7 linked regions of the Homo sapiens genome follow. The protein of the gene in region 1 interacts with the protein of each later gene in a pairwise test. Each region holds a gene or a part of one and is shown on either strand. Other genes may lie near its edges.

Region 1 (4,510 bases):
TGTAGTCGGAGCCTCCTGGCTCCATCCCTGCTGTGTGCTCCCAGGTCTGGCCTTAGCTGCCTCCTCTAAAGCTGGCTGAGCCAGCTTTTCCTCACATCAGATGACGATTCAGATTCAAGTGTGACAGGTAAGCACAGACTGCACCAGTCACTTCCTGCACACGCATCTCTCATCGTCTTTCAGCGGCAAGCTGAGCTGCTGGTGGGAAGAGTGAGCTGTGTGAGGCTCTGAGGAAGAGCTGCTGCAAGGCTGTGGATTGCACGTGGGGAACACCTACCTGCTGGAGCAAAGCACTGAGTGCTTACCCTGGTATTTTCCCAGCAGGGGTGTGCAGGATCCAGGAAAGGGTTCTCTCTCTCTCTTTTAAGACCCAGGTCTCACTATGTTGTCTAGACTGGCCTCAAACTCCTAGTTTCAAGTGATCCTCCCGCCTCAGCCTCCCAAGCAGCTGGGACCACAGGCATGTGCCATTGTGCTTGGCTCCAGTCCTTTTTAACTGTTCAGGATGCCTAAGAGATGTGGAAGTGGATGGATGCCCAAGCACCTAGCTTCAGCCCCCAGGTTTCCCAGCCTACCCTCCAGCTCAGGCCCTAAGACCTAGTGGGCAGATTCTACTCTCTGCTCCAGGCCAGTCAGAGCCCTGCATCCTGCTTGCCCAAGTGGTTCAGGGAGAGGCACAAGAGCCAGAAGGAGCCGATGAGGGGAGGAGAATCTCTCTTCCTCCTACTGGGGTTGCCTTGAGGTCAGACTACAGGCCTGGGGTTCTCTGATGGCCCTCCTGCCCTGGGTCAGGGAGGATCTGGCAAGGGGCAGGGCCAACCCTAAGCCAGATGGAGCCAAGAAATACCCGGGACTTTTCAGGTCCGTGAACCAGTAAAGCCTCTTTGCTTAACCCAGTTTGATAGAGTTCCTGTCACATGCAACAGAGAAGGCCATGATTAACGCAGAGACCAACACAGGGTTTGGAGTGCCCGAGGATCTCCGTGGTCAGAGGTCTGAGCCCTGGTAACTGTTAACTGCTTGTGGGGGTGAGGATAGACTCACCAACTTCAGCATTCGGAGAGTCCCTGCACACCTGAAAATGCCCTTCCAATGCAGCAACCTAGGGTCCTGCAGAGAGGTGCCACTTCCAGCCTTTCCCACACTGCCAGGGCCAGCAAGCTCGCCACCTCCGGAGGCTGCCTGCTCCACCAGCTCTGACTTTTACACGCACTTTCTGGTAGCGTGAACCCAAGTGGCTTCCCTGGTATTGATCCCAGAGAGAAGGCAGGAGAATCACCCTCTGAAGTGTGGCAAGCACCCCCTGCAGGGCTTCCCTTGGCACTGTCTTCTTCTCCAAGACTCAGCACCAGCCACCTCAGACCCAGGCCAGGGCTCGGGATCCTGGGCTGCGGGTAGCATCAAGGGCCACAGGCCACAGTGGCCTGTGTCTAGGGGAGAGGGGTCCCAACCTCCAAAGACCCAGCTCAAAGTGCTCCTAAGAGAGCCCATCCTTTCCATCATCAGCACCACAGGCTACGGGAGCAGCACTGCACATCCTCTGGGCCCAGCACTTCTGGTGTGTGGCCTTGAGCTTGGGCCTGGGCTCTCAGCCTCGCTGCCTGCACCTACGCTTCCCAGGATGGCTGTGGCGAATCAGTGAGACAATAGGCGGAAGGTGTTCGGCATGGGGCCTGGCGCTTGGTCCAGGCTCTGCACAGGCCGGCTCTGCTCACTGCTATTTTTATCAATGACAGCAGACACGTTAAACACAAGGAGCACAGAGCTGGAGCATGCAGATCAGGGGTACTCTCTGAGCCCTGTTCCCACAGGTGGAGGGGAATGGCCCCCTGGGGGCGCTGGAAGGGTGAAACAGCCACGCTCCCTGCAGGATCCCAGTGACAGCATCCCCTGCCTCCCTTCTGCAGTAGCTCCAGCAGGTGGATGGGACCCGAGGCTGCTGGGCCCCAGGGGCTGGGCGCCGAGTGTAGGGGAGGCCAGGTCCACAGAAGGGGGCTGCCTCCAGGTACAGGGCCCTGTGCTGGAAGGGCCTCAGAGGCCCCTGTGGAAAGCTCTTAGCCAAGTAGTCCAACCACACTGTCACACCAGGTGGCCACCCAAGCCCTGCGTACATGTTTCTCAGAGACAAGCTTCTCACTCCTTTTTGAGGGTGCCCGTGTCATCATGAAGCAGCTCTGGGGCCAAGGATGCTCTTGCAGAGGTGGGAGAGGTCTGGTGTGGCTCACCTGTGACATGGTCACCTGGGCTCATTCCAGGGAGGAATGTGACAGACAGAAAGTGGACATAGCCAGGCATGTACCCCTGACGGTGTGTACCAGGTACAGGAGCAGGAGACGCTGGGGTGGGGTTCCAATGCGGAGGTGACAGACTCAGTGAGGTCCCTGCTGGGCACCTGCCCCAGCTCCATGTGCTGCAGGGCTGCATGGCGTCCCACAGATGGTGTGGCTCTGCCTCCTGGACTCAGTTTACAGATCTGTCACCCAGTGAGGAGGTAGGGAGCCCAGGGATACCTGTGGTAGCAGTTCCTACATCATGGATTTTAAGAGGATGTGTTCAGGAGCCAAGTGGCCAGGGTGTGACGTCCCTAGTCGTCTACCAACTATGTGAGACTCAGCTCACCCACTGCACAGGGTAACGTGCGTTAGCGCGTGACAGGCCCTGGGAACCATGCCTGGCGCACCGTCAGCACATGGAAGGATTAGCTATTCTCGTTATTTCTGACTGCTTGGCCCATCACAATGCCTGTTTGGGTCTTCCTAAAGCCCAGCCCTGGAAGCTCCCTTCCCTTGGCACTCTGGACACAGAAGCCCTTGCTGACCACAACAGCTGCCATCCACTGCACAAACATGTTCCGGGTGCAGGCAGTGAGGCTCAGAGAGTTCAGGGAGTTGCCCCAGGTCCCACAGCTGATAGGTGGCAGATCCAGGACTGAAACCCTCCTGCCTCTGGCTCCTGCACCCCTGCCCTCCCGCAGCACCGCCAGCCAGATCAGCTGTGTGGCTGTCAGCTGGGCCAGCTGGGAGTAAGCGGCAGATGCCCAGAGGAACATCTGGAGGCCTGGTAGACCTCGGCAGCCCCCGGGATGCCCTCCCCACCAACCTACACCACTTTCTCAGGCTTCGTTTCTGTTCTTCCTCCCCGCTTGCTGCTGGCTCTCCCACTTTGGTACATGATTCCCTTAAAGGGGGCGTCCCCCCAGACAGAGGCCTGTGCCAGGAACGCTCACTGCTTCGTTGCTAGGAAGGGGTGGGAACTGAGAGCTGTGCTGGAGGCCGGGCAAAGGCCGGGACATACCACCCCGCAGGGAGAGAAGTGGAGGTGGTACACAGGCGCAGGGCCAAAGAAAGGGAAGGGAAAGGGCAGTTCCTCCTTCAACTAAAAACGTGCCTAGCTAAGACCCAGCAATTCCACTTCCAGCCATATGATCTAGAGGCCTGCCAGGTGTGTGTGTAAGGATCACAACCACTGTCACACTAGTGCTAGTTATGAAAAGCTAGAAGCAACTGGCCAAATAACCTATAGCCACGGCGGGGACTACCACTCAGCAGCACACAGGAGCAAGACAGCCTGTGTGTAGAGCCCAGCGATACCCTCATAAGACAATGTCACAGTCCCGCGCCCTGAGTGATGTCAGCAAGGATCCAACAGTAGCAGCTAATACATAGTAAGGCCCTATCCTGTGCCACGTCCTGCTTTCAGCACTTCACACAGACCAACGCTTTACCCTCACCGCCCTGGGAGGAGGGTGCCCCTGGCATCAGCCATTTCACAGATGCGGCCACTGTGGGACGGGGGGTTATGCTGCCCAAGGACATAGAGATACGATGGGGCACAGCCAGGATTTAAAGCCAGGCAAGCAAGCCCCAAGCTGTGTTCTTAACCATGGCTGTCTAGAGTTCCTAGAAGTGCACACAAATGCACAGGAAAAAAATCTGGAAGGAGAGACTGCAACATGCTGAGTCCAAGAGGATGTTATCCTGAGCTGCAAGGCATGCATTTTCTGTGAAGAATGTATTCACGTGCTACACAGATAATTAAAAGTTAACTGAATAAGAAAGAATCTACACAGACCAAAGCTGGCTGGTTGAGGGAGGTGGTTTTTCCTGGTTTCCTGTCTCCCCACTGCTGGCCTCCACCTGTCCACTCTGCAGGGACCCCTGGTTATCCCAGCCTCCCCTCTAGGGCACATGGGCCTGGGTCGAGAGATGATCCTGGAGCTCGGCTGTGCCCAGGAGCAGTGGGGACAGACTTCAGGGACCGTGTCAGGTGGGCCAGCAGGATGCAACCCTCCCCTGTCCAGCGCATTGCTCCGGCCGTGGCCTGTGCAGCAGTGAGAGCAGCCGTACTCTGCAGCAAGCCACAGGCAGATCACAGGCTCAGGAGAGAGCATCCTGGTAGATGTGAGATGTCCAAGACTCTTTGTTCTTAGCTGAGCAAACCAGTAAGCCATTGCCCCTTACTGGCCCCAAGTGAATGCACCATTCCCCAGAGGCTCTTCCTGAGACAGGCC
Region 2 (4,510 bases), on another chromosome or scaffold:
CATGATTGCACATGACTGTAATCCTAGATACTTGGGAGGCTGAGGCACTAGAATCGCTTGAACCTGGGAGATGGAGGTTGCAGTGAGCCGAGATTGCACCACTGCATTCCAGCCTAGGTGACAGAGCAAGACTCTGTCTTAAAAAAAAAAAAAAAAAAAAGGTGAATAGGGGAAGCACAAAATGTGTAGTTTTGAGAAAAGCCTATTAAAGGGGACCTAAGAATGGAGAGATTTGCGAGGAGAGGTTGTTGGATTTTGAGTAGAGTTCCTTTGAACAGTTTGAAAGAGACCCTAGAGCTTTCAGGAGAATGGCAGGAGACATCTCCTTCATTCTGCTGGTGCTCCACTGCTGCTTGAGGAAGGCAGTGTTGTTATGGGAAATAGGAGATGGATAATAACACAGCGATGGGGTGCCGGGATTCTGAGCATTTCCTTTTGGCCCTCTTTGACTTTGATTTGCTTTTATTTCCATTATCCTTGGATACTGAAAACTTTTCCTCATTTCAAGTTACTGTCATCTGTATTTTTTTCTTCTTGGATGTGTTTGTTTCTTTTTCATTCAAATCTTTTGCTACCTGAAGGTGAAATAAAAGGTTTTGGCAAATCACCAACCTGGGTGGAGGAGAAACCGCCCTGGGCATTCTGCTGCTTCGTGATCCACTTCACGATGTTGGTTGCAGAGGTCAGGTCCTCCGAGGTTGGGGCTGGCTGGGCCGTGAGATAAGCGAGGAGCACATAGGATGTCATCTCCACCTCAGCAGAGGGAGCCTGGGGTTCGTAAAAATGCCCCACTGGTGCCTTGGGTTTCTGAGGGCGCTCCCAATGGACAGAGTTGTCTTAAAGATGAGAAAAAGATATTTATAAGTGCCTACATATTTATATTTAATTCAAGGTGAAAGTACCCAAGCCAGTGCTGAAATGAGAATTGCATGCCCATTATAATCCCCTGTACTGTATGTAGATGCTTTTCCCTTCATGTAAATCTGAATTTGGTGTGTTTTAGCCCAGCTAAGGCAGATATTGATGCTGGAGTCAGAAGCCTATGCCTATCTATGTTTTCAAATCGTTGCTATAGTCGGGTTGGTGGGAGAAAGAAATGGCACAGCAGTTGTCTCATTGAGTCTGGCTATTTCCTATTTATGATGTTATATTAGACTATAGCTGGAGTTTGTTACATTTCCTATAAAGTGTGTCTTTATCAGTTTCTTGTGAGGATCACAGATCACATGAAATAGTAGAGTTTCTACTCATTAAATTGAAAAAAAAAATACAGTAATCCTTGAAATACCAAAGGCTGACATGGATGTGAAACAATGGGAACCAATATACACTGCTGTGGGAAGCCAACTGCTCTTTGGCAATATTCAGCAATGGGGAAGATGTGCTTAGCCCACTAATCAGTCATTATGCTTCTCAAAGCATAATTTGGAGAAACACAGATGCACAAGAAAACAGGCACATGAGTATTCATTGCAGCATTTTTTTTAATAGCAAAACATAAAAAAAATCCATGAGGAGAAACTCGATGTGTAAATTATGACTAATTTATAGACTGTAATATATTATGCAGCAGTGAAAATTAATGAGCTGACTCTGCACATACTTGTATAGGGGTCTTCATCAACATAGTGTTGAACTTAGAAAATAAAAAGCAGACAAACAAAAAACTAAGCTGCTGAAATATTCAAAAATGTTTCTCTTGTTTCTTGAATAAGAGAGAAATAAAAATCTTGTTTCTCTCAAGATGAAACACATGTGAAGATTCTAAATATTAGTTAGGGATACATATGCAGCAAAAATATAAGGAAATCCATGGAATTGTAACGACAAATTCAGGATAATGATTGCCTCTGGAGGTGGTAGTGATACACAAGGGATTTATTTTTCCCATGTCGGTAATTTTCTATTTCTTAATCTATGAGAGAGTTGTACAGTGTTTTCTAGTTATAGCTTATGCCCTTTTGTATATCTATTATAAAATATTTCTCAATACATTTTAAGAAGAATTAATGGCTGTCAAAGGAAAAAGGTAGACTGTTTTAATGGACATCTTGTGATTTGCATTTTATTTTCTATTTCTTCAACCGCTCATATAGACCATGGTATATGTAGAAGTACTGTGTGAATATGAGTAGATTGGTCAACATTATTGGTCTTATGAAATGGGCTTAAAATACCAGAATTCATTCAAGGAGTTACTTCCATGATTATTTTCTTATGTTTAAGGTTATATAATGTACCAGGTAAGGGTTGGGCATATATTGAGAACTGATATGTTAATTGTAATAACTAGTACTTTTATAGGATTTGCTATGTGACATGTACTCTACTAAGTGTTTTACGTGTACCAATTCATTTATTACAACAGCTCTGTGAGGTAAATACTATTATTATCCCCATTTTACTGATGAAGGAACTGAAACACAAGGAAGTTAATGACTTTCCCAAGCTCACATAGGTAGCACATTTTGGAGCTAGTCTCCAGAGAATGCTCTTCTTACCAGCATACTATAGAGATGGTCCCTGACTTACAATGGTCCCACTTAAGATTTTTTAGACTTTACAATGAGTTTGTCAGGATATAACCCCATCGTAATTGAGAAGCATCTGCACGGCCTCTTGTCTTCTGATTTCTGATTTGATTAAGAAATCCTAGATTTTATAAGATGCAATATGGACAAAATATATATGATATATAGAAAAGAAGAGAGGAGACAGGGATCACAGGAGGTAGGAGTGAGGGATTTTTGCCATGCAGTTCTTGATACAGAGGATGGGCCAGGAGAAGGATCTCAGGTGTGCTCTCACCTTTCTTCACAGCTTCCTCATTAAGTGACTTGAGTACTTCCTTCCTCTTGTCCTGGTTACCTGCCAGGGCAAAAGCATAGGCCAGCAGTGCTTTGGTATATACATGGCTGCCATGGTCCCCTTCTTGTGCTGTCTTCCAGGCTGACTCCAGGCAAAACAGGGCATTGCGGACAACAGGGTGCTGTGAAGGCAGAACAAGAAGGGAACTAAGCTATGTAAACAGGCATATTAGCATTCCCAGGCAAATACACGGATCACAGCACAGAAGTTTTTCAAACGCATTTTTCCAACGATTCCTCATTCTTATCAATAGATATAATATTATTTTTATCTGTTATTCTCACATTCAAAAGATACATCTTTAAGATTCTTTTTTGAGTGGTGGTGGTAAATAGCCTAGGGGAATTACTGGGAAAATTTAAACCTTTCTTAATGGGCTGACCAAATTCTCTGTAGATCTGGGAAGCACTGGCATTGCATAGAAAGAAAGCTGATGCTTTGCTTTTAATAGGATAGTATTTCAGACAGCAGGTCAGCAGTTTCATTGCATCCAGAACTCTCCTTCAGCAGAGGAATGGGGTGGTACCTACAGTGACTGTGAGAGGAATCTCCAGAAGGGCGATGGTGATATAGGCGGAGAGGGTCACTTCATCTTCTACTCCTCCCTGTGAATACGAGAGAGAGATCTGAATAATTCAACTTCTGAGAATGCTATTGATTAGTTCTTTCTATTCTGCTGTGTCATGGAATTCATCCTTACCCATATCCATCCCTATAGGGCAAAGTATCACAATCAACTTTTGTTCTATCCCCTCTTTTTTGGTGCCATCCAGGTTTTATTTTCCTCTGAGGCTTTCCCTTAGAATTTTTCACATTATCACTTCCTATCCTCATCCTTGCAGATATCATAATGGACAAATCAAAACTAGCTCCAGAATGATTCACCTTTATGGCATTGTTGAGCAGTGACCCAGAGCTCCTGAAACAGCCATTGTCCTTCTGCCTCTGGGAGAGCCATATGAGGGCTTGGGTAATGTGTGCTTCATCGATGAAGATGTAGGCTCGAGCTTGGGCAAAAGTCTTCAGAACAAAGGCTGTGAGCCTGACCAGGGAGGAAGCAATCATGATGTTTATGTTGTCAAAATGGTTTTATAACCACTTCACAGCAACAGGCTTCATATGATGTGAGTTAGCTAACAAAATTCTTGTGTACTTAGAGAGCTTATCTCCTTGATTAATCTTTAGTCTGCCTGATTAATCTGCTAGATGTAGTATTTCCTTGCTAACTCTCTCTTTGCCACAGGGAGTCTTAGTATATTTAATTTTATTTTAGTTCCGAGATACATGTGCAGAACGTGCAGGTTTGTTACATAAGTATACGTGTGCCATGGTGGTTTCTTGCACCTATTGACCCATCCGCTTAGTTCCCTCCCGTCACCCCACACCTCCCAACAGGCCCTGGTGTGTGTTGTTCCTGTCCCTGTGTCCGTGTGTTCTCATTGCTTAACTCCCACTTATGAGTGAGAAATGTGGTGTTTGGTTTTCTGTTCCTGTGTTAGTTTGCTGAGGCTGATGGCTTCCAGCTTCATCCATGTCCCTGCAAAGGACATGATTTCATTTCTTTTTATTGCTGCATAGTATTCCATGATGTATATGTACCACATTTTCTTTATCCAGTCTGTCATTGATGAGCATTTGGGTT
Region 3 (4,510 bases), on another chromosome or scaffold:
ATTCAGGCAGGTAGCCCTGGATCTGTAAACCTAGGTAGTATTTTAGAGCCTGAGCACAATATTGGGCCTTTGTACATGTGAACTAGAAAGCAAAGGGATAACTGAAATGGATAACAGATAGTCAGCACTTGGTATATTCCAGGCCTTTCTCTAGGCCCTTGTCACGAAGTATCTGACATCAACTTCATGAGTTAGGTACTTTTTCCTTATCTCTGTATGAGAAATGGGGAAACTGTGGCCTGGTATGTTTAAAAACAAAACAAAACAGTGCACTATTCACTTGAGGATCTTATTAAAATGAAGGTTACTGATTCAGTAGGTCTGATAGGGGGCCAATGATTCTGCATTTCTGATAAACTCCCAATTGCTGCTGCTGGCCCACAGATCACACTTTGGACTGCAAGAAAGTAAATTCTCCGAGTCCTAGAGGTAGCAAGAAGTAGAGCCAAGACGGGCTAAGTTGCTTGGCTCCGGGGCCCACACTTACTGCCAGTCGGCTTAGCATTTGCATGGCAGACACATCACAGCCCAGGTACCATGAATGCGCTCAAGGATTCAAAATCAATGTCTGTCACCCTTTTTGACTGCATTTTCTAGCAACAAAAATTCTGTATTCAGTGCGTAGTATATACCAGGAACTGTGGTAAACACTGGTTCAAACGATTTTCATTTAATCCACTGAAGTAAATTATCGGCCATTTGATTCCCTTCTTACAGGAAGCAAATCACAACCCCACTGATGCACTGGGACTCTAGTGAGTTTAATTATCATGCACAGAAAAGATTGAGCATTAATTTGCAAAGAATTAGAATCTAATAACACACCTCTAACACCAAAGGTAGTCAACCTTTGGGGATTGAGGAAGAATTGTAAGATCTTACAGAGCATCAGAGGTATCATTTGGAAAATTAATTATAGTCAAATAGATGAAGAAGGTGTAGGAGTTTGGGCCTGATTCTGTGAAATTATCAAAAAGTACTCTAAAAAAGAATGTAGTGATATTTTCCTTGTCATAAGGGTTTCATTTTCTATTATATAATAGATATTTTATTAATTCTGTTTTTCTTACATAAGTAGACCATAAATTCTTGATTTATGTATGAAATGTTTGGAAGCTACAGGTCATACAAAATAACACCTTCTATAAAATTTCACAAAATTTCCATTAGTCCTTATTTACTCAGAACAAATTTAGAAAGATTGAAAAGAGTGTATTACAGACAGTTAAATTCTACCACTTAATTTGAAATTTTTTCTTTATCTTCCCTTTAAGAAAGTGGAATCCAGCAGCCTGCCTGCATTTTTGGCAGACTCTGCAATAATTACGATGCTCAGATGATTCCCAAGATGGACCTCCCCAGCTGTAAATACCCTGCCTCCACGCTCATTCCTGTCAAGTGCAGATCTCCCCATCTTGGCATATGGGCAGTGTCCTCTGAAACACTTCAGGGTTTGAAGAGTAAAAGATGTAAATGATTTGCTTCACTGGCCATGTAGGCCTCCAGGAGAGGGACACCCAGACACTACCATTTGTAGAGGCCTGTCGTTAGAAGAGCACACTGTCCAGCCAGGCCTCATGGAGTCTTGAATGCAATGTCTCCCTTCCCCTTGAAATCACAATATGACCTTGCAGAGGTGACTTCAGAAAAATCAAAACATTTTGAGGCTCCCTACAAGTACTTTACTTAACTTCAACAACCAATGCTGTCATTTCTCACCTACTCTCCCCCACAGTTACTTTTTATTTCTTTATGTTTCAAAACAGATAACCAACCACAAAAAGCAAAACAATTCCCACAGAGGCATGAACCCAAACAGGCACGAACAAAAGCACAAGGTAGACGGGGCCAGCCTCAGCCTGTGCTGCCCCGGCATGGTATTCCTCTCCGCAGCTTTTTGTCAATTGCATGCTGACACTCCTTCCCGCTCTATTTCATGACATGTCTCCTCTCCTTTTGGAAGCATATAAGCAAAAACATGGGGCTGGGTGTGGTGGCTCACACCTGTAATCCCAGCACTTCAAGAGGCCGGGGTCAGTGGATTACCTGAGGTCAGTAGTTCCAGACCAGACTGGCCAGCGTGGCCACAGTTTTTCTTTTTTTTTTCTCAAAAGCAAAAAATTCTGAAAAAGTAGTATACCTTGTGATATAGTTTTAAAATCTGACTACTTGGCTGAAATCAATTAACATGACTCTTCAAAAAGGTCCATTTTAAGACTATATCTACTTTCTAACCAAAACATCTAGAGGAAATGCAAAATTTCCTTTCACCTGATAGCTATATTCAGGAAAACACAGGCTACTGGATATTTTACATAAGCTCTGAAGTGAGACGGTCCCTGGGTACGGCTTGAATTGTCTGGGTCGGTTCCTCAAGTGGTCTCTGCAGTTTCCTCATCTATAAAGAGGATATGAACATGGTCTACCTTACAAGGCTGCAAGGAATTAAAAGAGGTATTTCAGGGAAACAGGGTTTCTATAGTGCCAGGTTTGCGGCAAGCACTCACCGACACCGCCTGCAGGTATGGCCCGTTCGCGATGTTCTGGGCAGTGCAGCAGTTCTAGGATTTGAAAACCTTCCGGGTTGTGTTGCCTCCACCCTTTCCTCCTGCAGTTCCTTCACAAGCAGCCAGCATGAGGCTTCCTGAAGTCAGATCATGTCACTCCATTGTTCAAAAGTCAAATTTTCTCAACAGGGTCAAATCCTGGGCCCAGCAGACCCTACCTGACCTCTCCACCCTGCCCTTTTTCTGACATCCTCTTCTCCGAGCTCCACCTGCTCCAAGCTCCACCCCATACTGGCTGCTGCGTTTTCTGGGCGGGGGCCTGCCTGGGGCTCACGAGTTGCTGTCGCCTCTGCCATTTGGCACACAAATGGATGCTCCCTGAGGGTGCCCTCCTCACAGTTTAGCTCATCACACAGGCCTCGCGGCTGCTGTATATTACGGAACTCCCCACCAATACTCTTTGTCCCCTTGACTCTGCTGTTTCTCGATAGAACACACACTTACTAGCTGCTCCAAATAGAATAGCTCCGTTGAGGTAGGCATCTTGTCTGTTTCTATTTTCTGCTACATCCCAGTACCTGGCACTGTGCTTGGCACAGAGTAAGGACTCAATCGTTATTTGTTTATGTAGTTCGTTAACTGTATGACGGATATTGGAGGAGCCTCCTATTTTTTTGCTAGGTCCAATAGCTTCATCTCATCTGTCAGGAGATGATGAATGGCGCCTCATTTAGGAAACACCAATAACACATGAAGGTAATTTACACACAGGCACCCTGGAGCCCAGGTGCAGCTCAACGTTCTTATTGAAAATGTAGTAAAAATAGATTTTATTCACTGACCATATTTTAAGGAATACTATTTTTTACTATTTCGGGCAGTACTACTCAAAGCACAGCCCCTGGGCCCGCGGTGTTAGCATCACCTGGGAGCTTGCTGGAAACGCAACTTCTCAGCTTCCATCCAAGGCCAACTGGTCTGGGCCCAGTCATCTGTGCTTTTATAGGTCCTCAGGTGATTCTGATGAGCACTAAAGCTTGAGTGGCACTGCTGTAAAAACTACTTCAATGACTCGTTCCAGTTCTTTGACGTCCTCTTACAAGTCTTTAGTGTGACATGCTTGCGTTCTTAGTACCAACAGTGTAACTGGTTCTTCATGTACATCATGTTATCACCTCTCATGTTGACCACTTATCTTTTGCCAACTAAAAATACTTGAAAGGCACCTTCTCGGGTTTCAGAAGTTTCCATTTGTTTCGACAACATATGAGGCTACAGCCCAGCTATTCACCCATTAGAGCCCTCCCACGTCCAGCCAGCACTTATATTCTTCGAAGTTAAAATTGAAGACTCTGGAAGCACAGAAAATTGGGATTTCTTTTAATCTCTTTTTCTGAGGCACAGGTTTTCAAACATTGTATAACCAAGGATTTTTTTCATCTTTTCAAATGATAGATGTTTTATGTGTTTAATATGTGAAGTACGTAAAGAGGAATGGTCTCAGGCTGCTGTGATTGGCTTGGTGTGTTCACCTCTCACCGACCTGCCTCTGTTCTCCCACCCAGCGTCCGATTGTTCCGTGAGAACAACAGGTAGGATCCATAATTGTAAGGCTGGAAAACCTTAGCCATAGGGCAGAGTTTCTCAGAGTATGGTCAGTACCAACATTTTGGGGCCTCTACCCCCAGACAAATACATCAAAATTTCTGGTCACAGAAAAAGAATGAAAGAAGATTTTTTTTCTCGCCATTCTGGCCATCAAAGAAACATGGAAAAACATGCAAGATAATTCTGCACATGAGAGTCTGTGAATCTCTGCTCTAGTAACTTTACGCTATCATTTTTAGTGAAGAAAAATAATCATATAGGCATACTGTTTGCATATAGTCATTTCAAATCATTCCATTCAGTCTTAACTCAAACCAAGAATGAACCAAGACATTTGAAGAGATGAAATCTCAATTTCTCTGTATAATTTTAAATAAAGCATTCGCTCTAAAAGC
Region 4 (4,380 bases), on another chromosome or scaffold:
GTTGGAATGCCGCCCCCTCGAGTTGTGTAAGGCAGCAGCCTTGGCCCTTGCACATAAGATGCTGTTGAATATTCTGCCTGCACCAAGTAAAGGGCACAGATAGAACTGCTTGGCATATGTTGCTGGGGAGATGAGTTTTTTGTAAAGTATACTACGTTCTTAAGAATTTGGATCATAACCATGGGATTTTAATAATAGAAAAACTGTTGAAGATCAGTCTGGTCCCTTATTTTTACAGTGAAGAAGCCAAAGCCCAGAGAAGGGTGTTAACTTTACAAGTGTCAGACAGTAGTTAGAACTTGGTGGGGTTTTTTTTTTTTTTTTTTTGAGATGGAGTCTTGCTCTGTTGCCCAGGCTGGAGTGCAGTGGTGCGATCTCAGCTCACTGCAACCTCTGCCTCCCAGGTTCAAGCGATTCTCCTGCCTCAGCCTACTAAGTAGCTGGGACTATAGGTGCGCACCACCACGCCTAGCTAATTTTTGTATTTTTTCAGTAGAGACAGGGTTTTGCTATGCTGGCCAGGCTGGTCTCAAACTCCTGACCTCAGATGATCCAGCCACCTCAGCTTCCCAAAGTGCTGGGGTTCCAGGTGTTAGCCACCATGCCTGGCCATAGACTTGTTTCTGTTCCCTTCTCACTGTGGCTGTACCAAGGTGTTGCTTATCCCAGAAGTCGTGATGCAGGTCAGCACTTTCTCCATGGGAAGTTTTAGCAGTGTTTCTTTTTAGAATGTATTTGGGAACTTTAATTCATAATTTAGCTTTTTTTTCTTCTTCTTATAAATAGGCTGTACCAGTGCAGGTCCTCACTTTAATCCTCTATCCAGAAAACACGGTGGGCCAAAGGATGAAGAGAGGTAACAAGATGCTTAACTCTTGTAATAATGGCGATAGCTTTCTGGAGTTCATATGGTATACTACTTGTAAATATGTGCTAAGATAATTCCGTGTTTCCCCCACCTTTGCTTTTGAACTTGCTGACTCATCTAAACCCCTGCTCCCAAATGCTGGAATGCTTTTACTTCCTGGGCTTAAAGGAATTGACAAATGGGGACACTTAAAACGATTTGGTTTTGTAGCATTTATTGAATATAGAACTAATACAAGTGCCAAAGGGGAACTAATACAGGAAATGTCATGAACAGTACTGTCAACCACTAGCAAAATCAATCATCATTGTGAAACATAGGAAGCTTCTGTAGATAAAAAAAAAAATTGATACTGAAAACTAGTCGAGACTCCATTTATATGTGTATGTTTTCTGAAAGCCTTTCAGAAAAATATTAAATTTAAGGACAAGATTTTTATATCAGAGGCCTTGGGACATAGCTTTGTTAGCTATGCCAGTAATTAACAGGCATAACTCAGTAACTGAGAGTTTACCCTTTGGTACTTCTGAAATCAGGTGCAGCCCCATCTTTCTTCCCAGAGCATTAGTGTGTAGACGTGAAGCCTTGTTTGAAGAGCTGTATTTAGAATGCCTAGCTACTTGTTTGCAAATTTGTGTCTACTCAGTCAAGTTTTAATTTAGCTCATGAACTACCTTGATGTTTAGTGGCATCAGCCCTAATCCATCTGATGCTTTTTCATTATTAGGCATGTTGGAGACTTGGGCAATGTGACTGCTGACAAAGATGGTGTGGCCGATGTGTCTATTGAAGATTCTGTGATCTCACTCTCAGGAGACCATTGCATCATTGGCCGCACACTGGTGGTAAGTTTTCATAAAAGGATATGCATAAAACTTCTTCTAACATACAGTCATGTATCTTTTCACTTTGATTGTTAGTCGCGGTTTCTAAAGATCCAGATAAACTGTACTTGCAGTTCAAATTAGGAAAAGCAATTTTATTGGACAATTACGGTGAAAATGAATTATTTTATCTAGGTCAGTTAAGAACACTGTTCTGCTAAGATGCAGTAAAAAGCAGGTTACATTTGACCATATTAGATCTGAGTTTGGAAAACAGAAGTAGTCTTTAGTTTTAAAATGGCCAGATTTTCTTGCCAGGATTGGGTTTCTCACTTGTTAAACAGAACATTTTGTTAAGTTTAAAACCTGGGATGGACTTAAGTATTCATGTTCATTCATGTTCATTCAGGACTGCAGGTTATCATGACTTGTTTAACTTGTGGGAAGCTGTTGTCCCAAGTTATCCTGGGGAACTGCATCTGGTTCTTGCAAAACACCAAGTAGACAGGCTCTCTTTTACCTCCCCTTGAGGGCATTAACATTCAGTAGTCACTTCCATTCAGTTAACCCTTTATTTTTATGGTTTTTCTTGAGCCATAGTTGTAAAGCAGAAAAATCATTTATAAAGGTTTGTTGAACAAAATTCAAAATACTGTTGCTTAAAGTATTAAGATTTTTTAGGATTATACCTTACTTATAGGCCCGTCATTCATTTGGCATGAAATTTTGAGTTTTATTCACTTTCACTTTCCTTTTTTTCCAAAGCAATTAAAAAAACTGCCAAAGTAAGAGTGACTGCGGAACTAAGGTTACTGTAACTTACCATGGAGGATTAAGGGTAGCGTGTGGTGGTCTACAACATAGTTATTTGGGTTTTAGTATTTCATTTAGACAGCAACACTTACCTAATGTTTAAAGGTAATGTCTTTGCAACACCAAGAAAAAGCTTTGAGTAGTAGTTTCTACTTTTAAACTACTAAATATTAGTATATCTCTCTACTAGGATTAATGTTATTTTTCTAATATTATGAGGTTCTTAAACATCTTTTGGGTATTGTTGGGAGGAGGTAGTGATTACTTGACAGCCCAAAGTTATCTTCTTAAAATTTTTTACAGGTCCATGAAAAAGCAGATGACTTGGGCAAAGGTGGAAATGAAGAAAGTACAAAGACAGGAAACGCTGGAAGTCGTTTGGCTTGTGGTGTAATTGGGATCGCCCAATAAACATTCCCTTGGATGTAGTCTGAGGCCCCTTAACTCATCTGTTATCCTGCTAGCTGTAGAAATGTATCCTGATAAACATTAAACACTGTAATCTTAAAAGTGTAATTGTGTGACTTTTTCAGAGTTGCTTTAAAGTACCTGTAGTGAGAAACTGATTTATGATCACTTGGAAGATTTGTATAGTTTTATAAAACTCAGTTAAAATGTCTGTTTCAATGACCTGTATTTTGCCAGACTTAAATCACAGATGGGTATTAAACTTGTCAGAATTTCTTTGTCATTCAAGCCTGTGAATAAAAACCCTGTATGGCACTTATTATGAGGCTATTAAAAGAATCCAAATTCAAACTAAATTAGCTCTGATACTTATTTATATAAACAGCTTCAGTGGAACAGATTTAGTAATACTAACAGTGATAGCATTTTATTTTGAAAGTGTTTTGAGACCATCAAAATGCATACTTTAAAACAGCAGGTCTTTTAGCTAAAACTAACACAACTCTGCTTAGACAAATAGGCTGTCCTTTGAAAGCTTTAGGGAAATGTTCCTGCTTAGTCATTTTAGCATTTTGATTCATAAAGTACCTCCTCATTTTAAAAAGACATTATGATGTAAGAGAGCCATTTGATAACTTTTTAGTGAGCTTTGAAAGGCAAGTTACAGCCTCAGCTAGCTAGTAAGATTATCTACCTGCCAGAATGGCACAAATTCTACATTCAAGGGTAGACGCTGGCACAACCTACTTACAGATTAGCCCTTTAAAGCAATCTGTAGCATTAGAAGATGGAACCAAGGAAATGTTTGACTGTGGGTTCTGGCTGTTGAGAAATAATTTACACACCGAATTAGTGAAATGAGTCACTTTCTCTTAATGTATTTATGTACCTGAGAGAATGCTTTTCAATGTTAACCTAACTCAGGTTTGACTAAATTATTCAATTGGAAATTGTAGAATATTATTTCTGATAAACCAGAAATAAGTGAAATGCTGTTTGTTCATAAATATGTACTTTATCAAATGTAGGAGAGATCATTTAGGAGAGGAAAAGCTAAATTGGAAGACAAATCTGTAGTGTTTCCAAAGTTTTAAAATTATGGTAAACAACAGTATGTTCACAGTAAGTGGTTAAAACAACCATTCTTTAAATCTCAGTAGAGAATTTTTAAAAAGCAGTATTTAACACATTTCCCTAATGTAGTTTGTTGCCTATGTGGAATAACTCAATTAGAGACTCACTTATGCCTTTTGAAACTTCAAATATAATTACACTACCAGTTTTTACATGTGCATATAGGATGGTCCCAATACTTTAAATTGGAAATACAGGCTGTAAGTCCTTCAAGTCTGGATGTTGGGTAATCACGTTTTCTTCCAGAAGCCATTTGTTAGGACTTTAAAACTTCTCAGTGGGCCAGTGTAAAATTAAGGACAAGTTTTATAATTTAAATTTACAGATAAATAT
Region 5 (4,510 bases), on another chromosome or scaffold:
AAAGCAGACGACGGCACAGGGAGGTGCCCTACTCGCGGTTCATGTCATCACTTTCGCTTTCTGACAGTTCCTTGGGCTGCTTTAAGTGGATAGCAGAGGCCACCTTCTAGATGTAGAAAGAAACTGAACGTCCAGAGTGTGAACTGGCCTGCTTGTATCTCCCCTCGGCGGCAGTGGTGGTTGCCAGCCTGGCTTGCGTTTGCCCAAAAGTAATAGTAAAGAGCTCTGACCACTGCTGCTCACCCTAAACTTGGGGCTGCTGTACTTGTAGGCTTTGGAAAGCATGGAGGGGTTTCCACATATTAAAAAGGAAAAGGGCACCAGGTCTGTGCTCTGTGACCCCATCACGCAACGGAATGACACACAGCTATGAAGAATGAGGCTGCTCCACATATGCTGGGACTGAGAAAGGTTTTTGTGTTTTGTTTCGTTTCTGAGACCAAGTTTCACTCTTTGTTGCCCAGGTGGGAGTGCAATGGCGCGATCTCAGCTCACTGCAACCCTTGCCTCCCGGGTTCAAGTGATTCTCCTGCCTCAGCCTCCTGAGTAGCTGGGATTACAGGTACCCACCACCATGCCCGGCTCATTTTTTTTTTGTATTTTTAGTAGAGATGGGGTTTCACCATGTTGGCCATGCTGATCTCGAACTCCTGACTTCAGGTGATTCACCCACCTTGGCCTCCCAAAGTGCTGGGATTACAGGCATGCGCCACCGCGCCCAGCCGAGAATTGTTTTTTTTCTTTTTAAACGTGGCACAGTGTGTGTAGTGTATGTGACTACTATCATTTGTGTAAGAGAAAGAAAAGTTTACTATCAGAGACTGTATCTGGAGGGATAAACAGACTGGCAAGGGTTGCCTCTGGGCAAGAAACTGGGGAATAGAGAGCGGGAGTAGAAAGACTGTATTAGCTGGGTGTGGCAGCACACACTGTAGGCCCAGCTACTCCAGAGGCTGAGGGGAAGACTTGCTCAAGCCCAGGAGTTCAGGTCCAGCCTGGGCAACACAGCAAGACTAAAAAAAAACAACTTTCTTTTCCAAGAATACCCTTTTTGTAACTTTTGAATTCCGTATTTTTTAATGGTCTATGGTCTACAAACACTCATGTGCAAACACATACACGCAGAATAGGGATCACCTGCACGAAGCTATGAACTATTTCCTCATCCCTTCTAGCCCCTTCCTAGAGGCGAACCCTCCGCCCCCACCCCCAGGCACTATCTGTCCTGCTTGCACCCACCTCCACCCAGGGCTGGCCAACAATAGCCTGTTTCCTCTCCATTCCACCCCTCTCCCCCACCCTCCCATCCCACCACAGAAGAGGATTACTGGTTCCTGCTTTCCTTAGCGCCCCTAAATTTAAAGGTATCTGTTCTATGTTGCATGCTTCAGAACCCTGTAGAAACAACCAGCAAATCCACTGTTGATACGCAATTACCCCTCTTGGATGCATCTGCAACAAGCACTCCCCAGCTTCGAAGGGGCAGCAAAGAAGTTCACAATTACAAGACCATGGGGTCACGACCACAGAAGCGATATGAAACAGGTCCCGGGACACAGGGAGGGGCAGAAAGAATTCTTTGAGTAAGCCTGGAAGGTGGAGGGGCTCACCAGGCCAAGAGCAGGTGCTAGGCCTTCAGTAGGAACAGTGCGAGCCAAGGCACAGAGGCCAAGGGGAGCGAGCTGTAGCTGTGATGGTGGGCAGCTGGAAGGCCGCACATATAATCAACAGGGGACCCACATCAAAGGGGAGATCTTAGCCAAAACCAGCACATAGGGGCCTTCAATTCCATGAAGAATTTAGATGTTATCCAGTGAGCCATGGGAAGCCATTGAAGCGTTTTATCTAGGGTAGTTAAGTGGGCCCAGATTTTCATTTTAAGAAATCATTCTATAGAAGGAATCTCAAACCTCACCTGACTGCTTTTCTCCCCCCAGGGTTCTAAGCTTTACTTAAAAGCCCATATAAAAAAGTATAGATTTGCTTCCTACAGACTTGAACCATGCCCTAAGGATTTAATTCTAAGGGGCCTGTGAAGTTTACCTACTTTACTCATTTTTCTAAAGAAAAGTTGGCCGGGCGCGATGGCTCACACCTGTAATCCCAGCACTTTGGGAGGCCTAGGTGGGTGGATCACAAGTTCAGGAGATCGAGACCATCCCGGCTAACACAGTGAAACCCAGACTCTACTAAAAATACAAAAATATTAGCCAGGCGAGGTGGTGGGCACCTGTAGTCCCAGCTACTCGGGAGGCTGAGGCAGGAGAATGGCATGAACCCGGGAGGCGGAGCTTGCAGTGAGCTGAGATCACGCCACTGCACTCCAGCCTGGGTGACAGAGACTCCATCTCAAAAACAAACAAACAAACAAACAAACAAAACAAAAGAAAACTTGTTGCCTTGCAACCCCCGAAAATGTACCAAGGAAAAGCTAGCAAGCACCTTCTCTATTTTGGGCATCAACACCAAGGACACAGTGCAGGGCAGCCTGCTTGGCCTCTGGGTAGAGAAAGGCCAGCCCCTGCAGAAAGCCCTTCTTCATCCTGACAGCACAGCAGTGCTCTACGCTTCCTTGCACAGAAACTCATAAGATGCTTGTGGCTGGTGAGAAAACAACACTGAAACATTTCAGCTCCTCAAATGCTAAGGCCTCGGTGCCACCTCCCTAAGGTTTTATTGTTCACTGCCTTCAAAACCCATGTCTCCCGTCTGCCCCGCCCCCCACATCCCTTCCAGCTCACCTGATTACTCAGTTCCATTTTCAGCTCAGCAGCCTCTGAGGCTGGCCTACTTTTCAAGGCCACACGAGCAGAAAAATTTGGGCATTACACAAACAACAGAACATAACTAGGACAATGGGACACAGAAAGGGAAGAACCTGAAATGGTGTGTACCAAGGAGGCAAGGATACAGGCAGAACCTGGTGAAACAGCCAAGGGACAAGTTTGCAGGGCGGGAGGGAAGGGCTGGCGGGGAAAGAGTGGGCAGAGGCACTGAGCGTAACAGAGCAAGACTTGGCCAGGACAACCTGGAAAATTGAGCTGAAGACCAAGAGGCACCAGGCAAGATCACTTTACCCAGCGATAAGAGCTGTAAGGCTCACTTGGTTTTCAGTAGTCAACCCGGTGGTTCTGAAAACCACACCCCAGCCTGAACAGTGAGAAGGCTCCTGCAGCTTCAAGCGCATGGCAAGACCATGGGAACAGCCTATTGATACAGAATTAGATCAGCTCTGGGGAGCACAGTGCAGGCAAGAAGAGGCCCTCTCAGATCTACTCTAGCTAATTAAGGTACTGTCCTGTGGGGCATGTTTTTTTGTTTGTTTTGAGAGAGTGCGGTAGCACAATCTCAGCTCACTGCAACTTTTGCCTCCCTGGCTCAAGTGATTCTCCTGCCTCAGCCTCCCAAGTAGCTAGGACTATAGGCGTGCACCACATCTAGCTAATTTTTGTATTTTTAGTAGAGATGGGGTTTCACCATGTTGGCCAGGCAGGTTTTGAACTCCTGGCCACAAGTGATCCACCCACCTCACCCTTCCAAAGTGCTGGGATTACAGGCGTGAGTCACCATGCCCAGCAAAGAAGTATGTTTCTCAAGAAGTGAAAGGCCAAGGGTCACTTCACCAGGCTTTTTCTGAACTTCCAGCTCCATTAACATCCTGACCTGAAGAACCAACCCCTTGCCTTCACCAAGAAGATGGAATGTTTCATGGACACAGTCCCTGTCCCCAAACCCCTCCTTTTCAAGGGGCCTCTGGTCATCCGGGGCACTGTTCTGGAGGTGCTGTGCCTGCTGGTCCTGCTTTGTTTCCACATCATCTACCGCGACCAGCCGAAGTAGGGTGCAAAGGAGAGGGCACCCAGGCAGCAAGACACAGTGCACTCCGCGAGATTAGGCTGGTCCCATTTCCCCAGGGGCGCCTGTGGATGTGTCGCTCTGTCGCTCTGCTTCTGTGGCCACGGACGTGAGGAGCAGAGAGGCTGTGGTGCGCAGGGACCCTCAGTCACGGATGCGGAGCTGGTAGAGGCGAGAAAATGCAGCCTTCCGGATCCAGCGGAAGAGCTGGGCCAGCTTGTAGAGGAAGTGCAGGGAGGAAGGGGAAGCTGCAGGGCAGAGGGAGACTACAGTGAACGTCCCACCCCTCTCACCTGTCACTCTGCCATCTCCCACCCTGGGAGACTCCACTACCAATTACACATAGTTGGTTTTGTTTTGTTTTTTTTAGAGACAGGGTCTCGCTCTGTCACCTAGGCTAGAGTACAGTGCAGTCTGTGTTCAGCTCACTGCAGCCTCAATCTCTGGGGCTCATGCGATCCTCAGCCTGCAGGTGCAGGTTCTCCTCCCCCACCATCATCACTCCAATGAGTCGGGCCTGCTGCTGAGGGTCAGGGCCACTGGGCCAGGCCCTTCTGAAGCAGCCTTGGAAAGAGCAGGCTCAAATGTCCTCATGCCATCCCCACTAGGAGACCAGGGTTTACGAGACTAAAGGGCTTACGGGAACCATAAAGAA
Region 6 (4,510 bases), on another chromosome or scaffold:
CACCCTGGGCCACACCTGGACCACTGCTAGAGGCCTCTCATGGGCCCTCCCTGTTTTTCTCTTGCACTCCCCGGGCTTTCTGGCACAAGATGCCCCAGAAGCAGAATCACATATCTCTCCTGGGAGCCAATCTAGTGTGTTTACTGCCCCTGGAGTGTTATTGTTGGCCTTAGAATATGTCCCACTACAGGTTTGCAGAGCACTGTAGTCAAAAGTCATTTGAAATAAATCTTTTCTCTGTGGTATATTGTCAATTTGATATAGAATTAAATTTGTTTCTTTTCTTTTTTCTTTTCTTTTTTTTTTTTTTTAAGAGACAGGGTCTTGGCCAGGCGTGGTGTCTCATGCCTGTAATCCCGGCACTTTGGGAAGCCAAGGTGGGTGGATCGCCTGAGGTCAGGAATTCAAGACCAACCTGGCCAGCATGGTGAAACCCCGTCTCTGCTAAAAATACAAAAATTAGCCGGGCGTGATGGCAGGTACCTGTAATCCCAGCTACTCGGGAAGCTGAGGCAGGAGAAGGCTTGAACTCAGGAGTCGGAGGTTGCAGTGAGCCAAGATCACGCCATGGCACTCTAGCAAGACTCTGTCTCAAAAAAAAAAAAAGAGAGAGAGAGAGACAGGGTCTTGCTCTGTCACTCAGGCTGGAGTGCAGTGATGTAGTCATGGCTCACTGCAGCCTCATACTCCTGACCTCAGGTGATCGACCCGCCTCGGCCTCCCAAAGTGCTGGGATCGTAGGCTGAAGCCACCATGCCTGGCCCGAACTCATTTGTTTTTATTTGCATTAAGTGTAATAAGGTTTTGTTACTTTTAGTTTGAATTTTATTTTGGGTAATATAAACATTTACATGATTCAGAAGTCAGAATTACACTGAGGCATGTTCAGCTAGGCCTCACTCCTGTGCCTGTACCCTTACCTTTTTCCCCCTACCCCATGCAGGGAATCAATTTCATTAGTTCCTGGTGTGTCCTTCCTTAATACCCCCCCTTCTTTCTTTGGTAGAATGCAGTAGATATGTTTGCGCTTTGCTCCCTTTGCTTCACAGTGGATCCTGGAAATGACTCCATCGCAGTTCTTAGAGCTCTTGTTTAGTCCCTTTGGATCTGCACAGTACTCCAGTGTGTGGGCGCACCATAAGTTTATTCAGCAAGTGCCCTGGTGATAGGGATCGGGGGTATTGGAAGCCTTTGGCTGGTAAAAATAATGTTGTAGCAAATAACATCATGCATATGTTCTTTGAGATTTCTGGAGGTGTCTCTTTAGCATAGATTTCTAGAAGGCATTCCTTACGTCACGTTTAGGTTTATAGTTTGACCTCATGGTGATTAAGGTATTTGGGAAATGCAAATGAGAGTTTCGAAGAAGCCAGATCTTTCCCATTAGTTCACTGTTTTTCTCTGACATTAGGACCGTCCGGGTTCTAGGGAGCAGCCCTGGCGTTAGGCAGTGCCATGATGGATTGTGTAGAAGTAGCGATTCCCATCTGTCTGCTTTCTTGGCCCACTCTGCTGGTGGCTCCCCTTCCCTCCCTCCTTTATGGGGAGCTGGGGAGCTGCCTAGGGGTCCATTCTCAAAGGCTGATCTCTGGTGGGCAACAGGCCACACCTAGCTTTCCAGGGTTCTTCGTCATTTCCCATTGAGAGCTGTAAGACTCAGAGACATGAAAAGGAAGCTCTGGCTGGGCACGGTGGCTCACGCCTGTAATCCCAGCACTTTGGGAGGCTGAGGCGGGTCGATCACCTGAGGTCAGGAGTTCGAGACCAGCCTGCCCAACATGGTGAAACCCCGTCTCCACTAAACATACAAAAATTAGCCTGGCGTGGTAGCACACGCCTGTGATCCCAGCTACTCCGGAGGCTGAGGCAGGAGAATAACTTGAACCCGGCAGGCGGAGGTTGCGATGAGCCGATATTATGCCATCGGCAACAGAGCGAGACTCCATCTCAAAAAAAAAACAAAAAACAAAACAAGGCGAGCTCTGTGCTGGGACAGATTAGGGACCCCTCTTTACAGCAAGAAAGACTGCTCTGTGGGTTGTAGGATGCCTTTGTGTATGCAGTGGCTCTAGGTGACTCTGGCAGCCACACTCTGGGCCCTAAACTTCTGGAGGAAGATACAGGATAGGGAGGAACTCAGGGGTGAGTCATGGTGGGGACAAGACATTCCCTCACTCTAAGACCTTGTCACTAGATTGGAACATCTCTTGCCTCCCTACACCTGACCTGATGGTTCTGGAGAGATACGTCCTTGCAGCTTCTGAGTCCCAGCACTAAGCAGCCTTTGGTAACTTCCCTACATCATTTGAGTTCTGGTTTCCTAAGGATGCTTGCCAGTGAGTGCCATGGTGCCCTCATTGCACAGTCTGTGCAGTGTAGACAAGAGGGGAAGTCTCTTGGGGTAGACCAGCCGCAAGGCGGTGACTAGCACTGATGTGAACCACATGGGACAGGGGAGTTGTGGGGCTGAGAACACGGAGGGTGGGAGTAGTCATGCTCTTTTCCAGAATGAACTGCTAACGAAGGGACTCGCAGGTGGCTGCTGCTTCTTTCCAAGCTGCCCCTGTTGTTGCAGAGGCTCTGGAGTCCTAGGAGGTTTCACGGTGGCATACTCGACAGAGTACTAGAGCATCATGGCCAGATAGTGATGCTGGGGTGTGGGGCCTCACGGTGGCCATTTCTGACGAGACCCCACCGGGCCAAAGTGATGTGTAGAGAAGGAGCTGCTTCGGTCACCAGAAAAGAACGGGGAAGCCTCCCACACTAGAATAGGTAGGGTGCTCTTCTCCACCGGCAGGAAGGGGATGTATGGCTCTGCCTGGACCACACCTTTTTCCTTGCTCTTCCCTCCGCATCTGCTGTGGCCGAGGCCATTCCTCATCAGGGAACATGTGTTAGAGGCTCACGCCACCTGGGACCACTTGTCTTATCACCCCCAGGACCCTAGGCGGTAGTTTCCTGTGGCCTGAGTTAGCTGATATTTATATAGTGCCATTGTGCCTTTTCTCCTGTGATGCTCACAGTAAGGATGCCTAGATGGGGTTACCTGTTGTCAAGATAAGGAAACTGAAGCACAGAATGCTGAGGTCATTTGCTGGGTTCATGTTTGGAAAGCGGCAAAGGATTTCAGTGCAGGTTGGCTGGCTCCAAACCTGTGTGTGCTTTCCATGACACTGTACTGTGTGCCTCATTGAGCCTCATTCTAGAAAACCAAAAACACACCCAAGGCCCGGCCTTCACAAAGGAGACCCCTCCCCCATTTGGCTCCCTTTCCAGCAGTCGACGGCCTCTTGTCAGCCATCGAGCCCAGAGTCCCTTGAAGTGCGACTCATGCTGGGGTGGTATGCTCAGGAGCCGCAGTGTTTCCGCTCAGAGGAAAGGGCTCTGATTCTCCTGCAGTGCTAGGAGACTTGTGGGTGGCCACAGTGCAGGTCAGGCACACCGGCCAGCACCACCCACAGCCCAAATTCCTAAAGAAATATTTGGGTCCCAGCTTGGCCCGAGTCTCTGTTGTCCTGGGGAAGGACATCAAGATCTGAGTGTATGATGGCCTGGGGCCTTGCATGTGGTGGGGGTCCAAGCCTGCCTCTGCTCACTTGTTCTGCAGACTGGCATGTTCTCTGTGATACTTACATACTTGTTTAACACTTCAGGGAAGAAAAGTCAGAAGACCAGGACCTCCAGGGCCTCAAGGACAAACCCCTCAAGTTTAAAAAGGTGAAGAAAGATAAGAAAGAAGAGAAAGAGGGCAAGCATGAGCCCGTGCAGCCATCAGCCCACCACTCTGCTGAGCCCGCAGAGGCAGGCAAAGCAGAGACATCAGAAGGGTCAGGCTCCGCCCCGGCTGTGCCGGAAGCTTCTGCCTCCCCCAAACAGCGGCGCTCCATCATCCGTGACCGGGGACCCATGTATGATGACCCCACCCTGCCTGAAGGCTGGACACGGAAGCTTAAGCAAAGGAAATCTGGCCGCTCTGCTGGGAAGTATGATGTGTATTTGATCAAGTAAGTAAGAGCAACTCCTATCTCTACAGGGCAGGGAGGGCAGGGACAAGGATCCCTCATGGAGCAGGAAAATGTATGTGCCCAGGGTGGGGTCGGGGGGAACATAAACAATGAACACTGAGACCAGGTGTGCTTGAAATGACCGTGTACAGAGGTCGCTGCCCTGAGTGGGAAGTTCTCAAGGTAGCAGGCCCTCTATCCTCTCCACACCTCAAGTCTTTATCTGGGGATGGAATAGCTGCGGAAGCAGAGGAACTTGCAGAGCTAGGGGTTCAGAGGGGTGAAGAAGCATGTTTCAGTTCTGCCTTTTAAATGATCCCAAAAAGGTTAGCAGTTTTCAAATGACATTTGCAGACAGCCTCATTTAATTCCATGAGAAGGGTGAGCAAAGGATTATCTTGTTGAAACTGATTCCTGGAGAGACTGAGCACCGTACCTGAGTTCAAACTTGGGAATGTTCTAGATGGTGACTCAGGCCCAGGCACCAACCAGCAGAATGGGCCTCA
Region 7 (3,500 bases), on another chromosome or scaffold:
ATATGGGTGTAATAAACCTTTGTTGAATAAGTGAATAGATCCAGATGCAGCTAGTAGTGGTAGTGTCATCTGCCTGCCCTGGCTGCTCCTTATCCTGTGGGGAGCGCCCCCCGACCCCCAAACCACAGCCCTGCTGAGGCACAGTGGCTGGATTTTGGATGGGGTGGCTCTGCCAGCTGTGTGCCAGCCCTGCCCTTCAGCCAAAGCTGACTGGCCCAAGGAGTCACCTGCCCCAACGGCAGTGAACCTACAGTGACACTCGAGACCCAGATGGTTGGACGAAGGGAAGGGAGGGAAGTAGATTCTCTTTTTGGGAGTGTGAGTGAAGAAATCTGCCAGTCTGCAGTGGAGAGGAAGCCACGATACTTCACTGGGGCCATGAGGAGCCAGAGGTGAGCAGGCCAAAGGGAAGCAGGAACAGGAGATGCGAGGAAAGAACAGCATGTGGACAGTGGAACCACGTTCCTACAAGTTCAAGAATCAGTAACTGATGGAAATTCCCGTGGCTCACTCCTGTAATCCCAGCAATTTGGGAGGCTGAGGCAGGCAATTGCTTGAGCCCAGGAGTTCGAGGCCAGCCCGGGCAACATGGAGAAACTCTGTCTCTACAAAAACTACAAAAATTAGCTGGGCATGGTGGCATGTGCCTGCAGACCCAGCTACTTGGGAGGCTGAGGTGGGAGGATCACTTGAGCCCAGGGAGGTTGAGGCTGCAGTGAGCCAAGATCACGCCACTGCTCTCCAGCCTGGGCAACAGAGTAAGACCCTGTCTCAGAAAAATAAAAGAAAATTTGAGTTTGCAGAAACCACTTTCTGAAAGGCTGAAACTCCCTCTGCTTATGAGATAAAAGAACTGGCTGAAATTGGTTGGAACCAATAAGGCCAATTGCAGCTTGCACAGAACAAGTTTGCTGATGTCAAAGCCTGAATTGCCACTGCACGTTTCATACTCACTCCTCCCAAATCTGCACAGGGGACCCATGAGTTGGCATGAACAGATAACTGTGCATGTCCAAGGACTGTCCAGACTTCTCCTTTCCTTCCATCAATCACCTGCTAATCTTAGAATCCACCCCTTAAACCTCCTCTAATAAAATTACCGCCTTAAAGCTAGCACAGGGAGACAGGGTTGAATTCAACTCCTGTCTCCATATGAGTCGACTCACAATAGAAAGCTTGGCTTTTCTCAAAAATCCAGTGTGACTGCTTCTAGCACATCAGGCTAGAGCCCCCTTTGCTGCATAACAATGGTGGAGGGAAGCGAATGGGGCAGAGCCTAGACGGTGCTGGGGAGAGAGCAGGGCACCGGCCTCTCCCAGCACTGCATGGTCCCCAGGCTGTGTGGCTGCAGTCCACGTGTGCCCACGCGCTGCTCCTGCTCTTGAGTCAACCTGAGTGGCCCCTGTTCTATGCAATCAAAGGAGCCAGAGCATCGTTTCCACCCTCGGGCCCCTGGGCAAGTCATGATCACAGCCCCAGGCTGTCAGGGCCCCAGCAGGTGTCATGGGAGCTCAGGGGCAGAGGAGTATGGCTGTACTGGGGAGATACATGGTGGGGTTGCGGGTGTCTGAACTGAGACCTGAAATGTGGGAGGAGGGCAGCCCAGGTATAGCCAGCTGTACGCTCAAGAGATGGTCACAGAGAAGCCTGGCACATTCGGGGAAGGAGCTATGAAGCCAGCGTGGTGGAGTGTAGGGTGCTGATGAGAAGGGTGAGAGATAAGGCGGGAGACGTGGTGAGATGAGCAGGTTAAGCGCCTTCAATCTCTGGGCCCCAGGAGAGCAGAGGCTAGGAGGAAATGAACCCAGGGTGTTCTTGGGAAAGCTTCTCCCAAGGTGTACCAGAAGTTGAGGTAATGTACCTGCTGCCACATCTATCCGGTCATTCAACAGGTATTTACTGAGGGTATGCAGTAAACAAAGAGTGTTTACAGTACAGCTGGAGCAAAAAGGAACCAACAGAAAAAGACGTGTTATTTGAGGCCAGACAGTGAGAACTGCTAAAGGAACAAAGTCCCTGAAGAGGGACAGGGACTATGTCAGATGGGAGGTCTCAGCAGCAGACATCATGGTGCTCCGGCAGCAGGACAGCACCACGTCGGCCGGCTGCCACTCATGCCACAAAAGGAGGCATCAAGGATCATGTTAGCCCCAAAGCAGCTGACATTCAGGTGTCCACTTTCTCCAAAAAGGCCTCAGGAGAAGCAGCAGCCACTTGAGCAGCTACCTCCACCGGCCTGCAGGGACTCCCAGTCACATTGGAAACCTCCAAACCATGGAAGGGGTTTTCCACAACCACTCCCTTAATTTCATACTTTTGCCTCCCTGCTTCTGACAGAATGAAGATCTATAAACCAGCCCTCCAGTAAATCACCAAAAATGCAGCAGACCCACCTCTTCTTGGTGGGTCTACAAATGAGAGACAGGGTCTCACTCCAGGGTCGCCCAGGCTGGAGTGCAGTGGCATGATCTTGGCTCACTGCAGCCTCAACCTCCCTGGACTCAAATGATCCTCCCGCCTCAGCCTCCTGAGTAGCTGGGATCACAGGCATTTGCCCCCATGCCCGGCTAAAATTTATTTTTTGTAAAGGCGGGGTTTCACCATGTTGCCCAGGCTGCTCTTGAACTCCTGGGCTCAAGTGATCTGCCTACCTCAGCCTCCCAAAGTGCTGGGATTACAGGCATGAGCCAGGCTGTAAATATTGAGGTGGGCACAAGTATCTCCTCTGTCATAGCCTGCGCGTCAGTCCTCACCACCTGTGGTGAGGCTGGTGGTGGACATGGGCTTTTCTGAGCTGAAAGCGTAGCTGCTGTTCACTTGCTCTTCCCTCTGCTGGGAATGCCACTTCCCTACTCCTCTGCCCAAGTAATGCCAATTCATCCTTCACAAGGTGGCACAAACTGTCCCTTTGAGAAGGCTTTCTGAGCAGCCCCTCCTCTGCAGCACACGCCTCCCCTGGGCTCCCTCAGCCCAAGCATACTCGATTCTAGCACTTACACCCTGGGCTCTCTGCTGCCACACTGAGACCTCTGGGCCAACAGACCACTTTTTGTTTTTTTTAAAATCTCTTGGCACCATCAGTGCACATAACTATTAGTGAAATGAGTGTTCCCTCTGGTGGGGACAGAGTTCAGTTTATTCCGATAGGTGGCGCTCTACCCGTGCATTTCTTAGGAGGAATCTGAGAACCCCAGTCAATCATGCAACACTGTGAACTGGGCATTTTTGGGGGGCCTCCTCTCCCCTGCTCCAATGTGAATTACGCAAGTGCATCATCATTTGGGGTCAGATTACCTGCAATCTTTCCCAAGTGAAATTATCCACTAACTGAAAATCCATCACCAACATTAAGCCTTTATTATCTACTGTCATATCAGACACTGTACCAGGTGCTGAGGACATAAGTGATGGATGAAGTTGCTCTCAAAGAAGTCCCAGTCAGTCTGGCAGGCAGAGGGCACTTACCTGTAAGTGACTGCTCCATACTCCCCAGCCAAGGC

What was found.
Region 2: the proteins of IQSEC1 (region 1) and A2M interact in binary tests that used the Homo sapiens proteins (3 or more experiments, as listed by UniProt).
Region 3: the proteins of IQSEC1 (region 1) and PRKN interact in binary tests that used the Homo sapiens proteins (3 or more experiments, as listed by UniProt).
Region 4: the proteins of IQSEC1 (region 1) and SOD1 interact in binary tests that used the Homo sapiens proteins (3 or more experiments, as listed by UniProt).
Region 5: the proteins of IQSEC1 (region 1) and PEX26 interact in binary tests that used the Homo sapiens proteins (3 or more experiments, as listed by UniProt).
Region 6: the proteins of IQSEC1 (region 1) and MECP2 interact in binary tests that used the Homo sapiens proteins (3 or more experiments, as listed by UniProt).
Region 7: the proteins of IQSEC1 (region 1) and PINK1 interact in binary tests that used the Homo sapiens proteins (3 or more experiments, as listed by UniProt).

What each region holds. Positions count from the first base shown.
Region 1 is NC_000003.12:12,929,832-12,934,341, forward strand, and holds part of IQSEC1 (IQ motif and SEC7 domain-containing protein 1), read right to left. Parts: intron 1-4,510. UniProt on the Homo sapiens protein: Guanine nucleotide exchange factor for ARF1 and ARF6. Guanine nucleotide exchange factor activity is enhanced by lipid binding. Accelerates GTP binding by ARFs of all three classes.
Region 2 is NC_000012.12:9,073,948-9,078,457, forward strand, and holds part of A2M (alpha-2-macroglobulin isoform a precursor), read right to left. Parts: intron 3,911-4,510; coding exon 3,754-3,910; intron 3,474-3,753; coding exon 3,399-3,473; intron 2,990-3,398; coding exon 2,809-2,989; intron 837-2,808; coding exon 613-836; intron 1-612. UniProt on the Homo sapiens protein: Is able to inhibit all four classes of proteinases by a unique 'trapping' mechanism. This protein has a peptide stretch, called the 'bait region' which contains specific cleavage sites for different proteinases.
Region 3 is NC_000006.12:162,255,207-162,259,716, forward strand, and holds part of PRKN (E3 ubiquitin-protein ligase parkin), read right to left. Parts: intron 1-4,510. UniProt on the Homo sapiens protein: Functions within a multiprotein E3 ubiquitin ligase complex, catalyzing the covalent attachment of ubiquitin moieties onto substrate proteins. Substrates include SYT11 and VDAC1.
Region 4 is NC_000021.9:31,665,663-31,670,042, forward strand, and holds the end of SOD1 (superoxide dismutase [Cu-Zn]), read left to right. Parts: intron 1-786; coding exon 787-856; intron 857-1,595; coding exon 1,596-1,713; intron 1,714-2,808; coding exon 2,809-2,916; 3' UTR 2,917-3,269; downstream 3,270-4,380. UniProt on the Homo sapiens protein: Destroys radicals which are normally produced within the cells and which are toxic to biological systems.
Region 5 is NC_000022.11:18,087,565-18,092,074, reverse strand, and holds part of PEX26 (peroxisome assembly protein 26), read right to left. Parts: intron 4,104-4,510; coding exon 4,000-4,103; 3' UTR 1-3,999. UniProt on the Homo sapiens protein: Peroxisomal docking factor that anchors PEX1 and PEX6 to peroxisome membranes. PEX26 is therefore required for the formation of the PEX1-PEX6 AAA ATPase complex, a complex that mediates the extraction of the PEX5 receptor from peroxisomal membrane.
Region 6 is NC_000023.11:154,031,701-154,036,210, reverse strand, and holds part of MECP2 (methyl-CpG-binding protein 2), read left to right. Parts: exon of another isoform or gene 1-2,287; intron 2,288-3,653; coding exon 3,654-4,004; intron 4,005-4,510. UniProt on the Homo sapiens protein: Chromosomal protein that binds to methylated DNA. It can bind specifically to a single methyl-CpG pair. It is not influenced by sequences flanking the methyl-CpGs.
Region 7 is NC_000001.11:20,639,958-20,643,457, reverse strand, and holds part of PINK1 (serine/threonine-protein kinase PINK1, mitochondrial precursor), read right to left. Parts: coding exon 3,466-3,500; intron 802-3,465; exon of another isoform or gene 340-801; intron 1-339. UniProt on the Homo sapiens protein: Serine/threonine-protein kinase which acts as a sensor of mitochondrial damage and protects against mitochondrial dysfunction during cellular stress.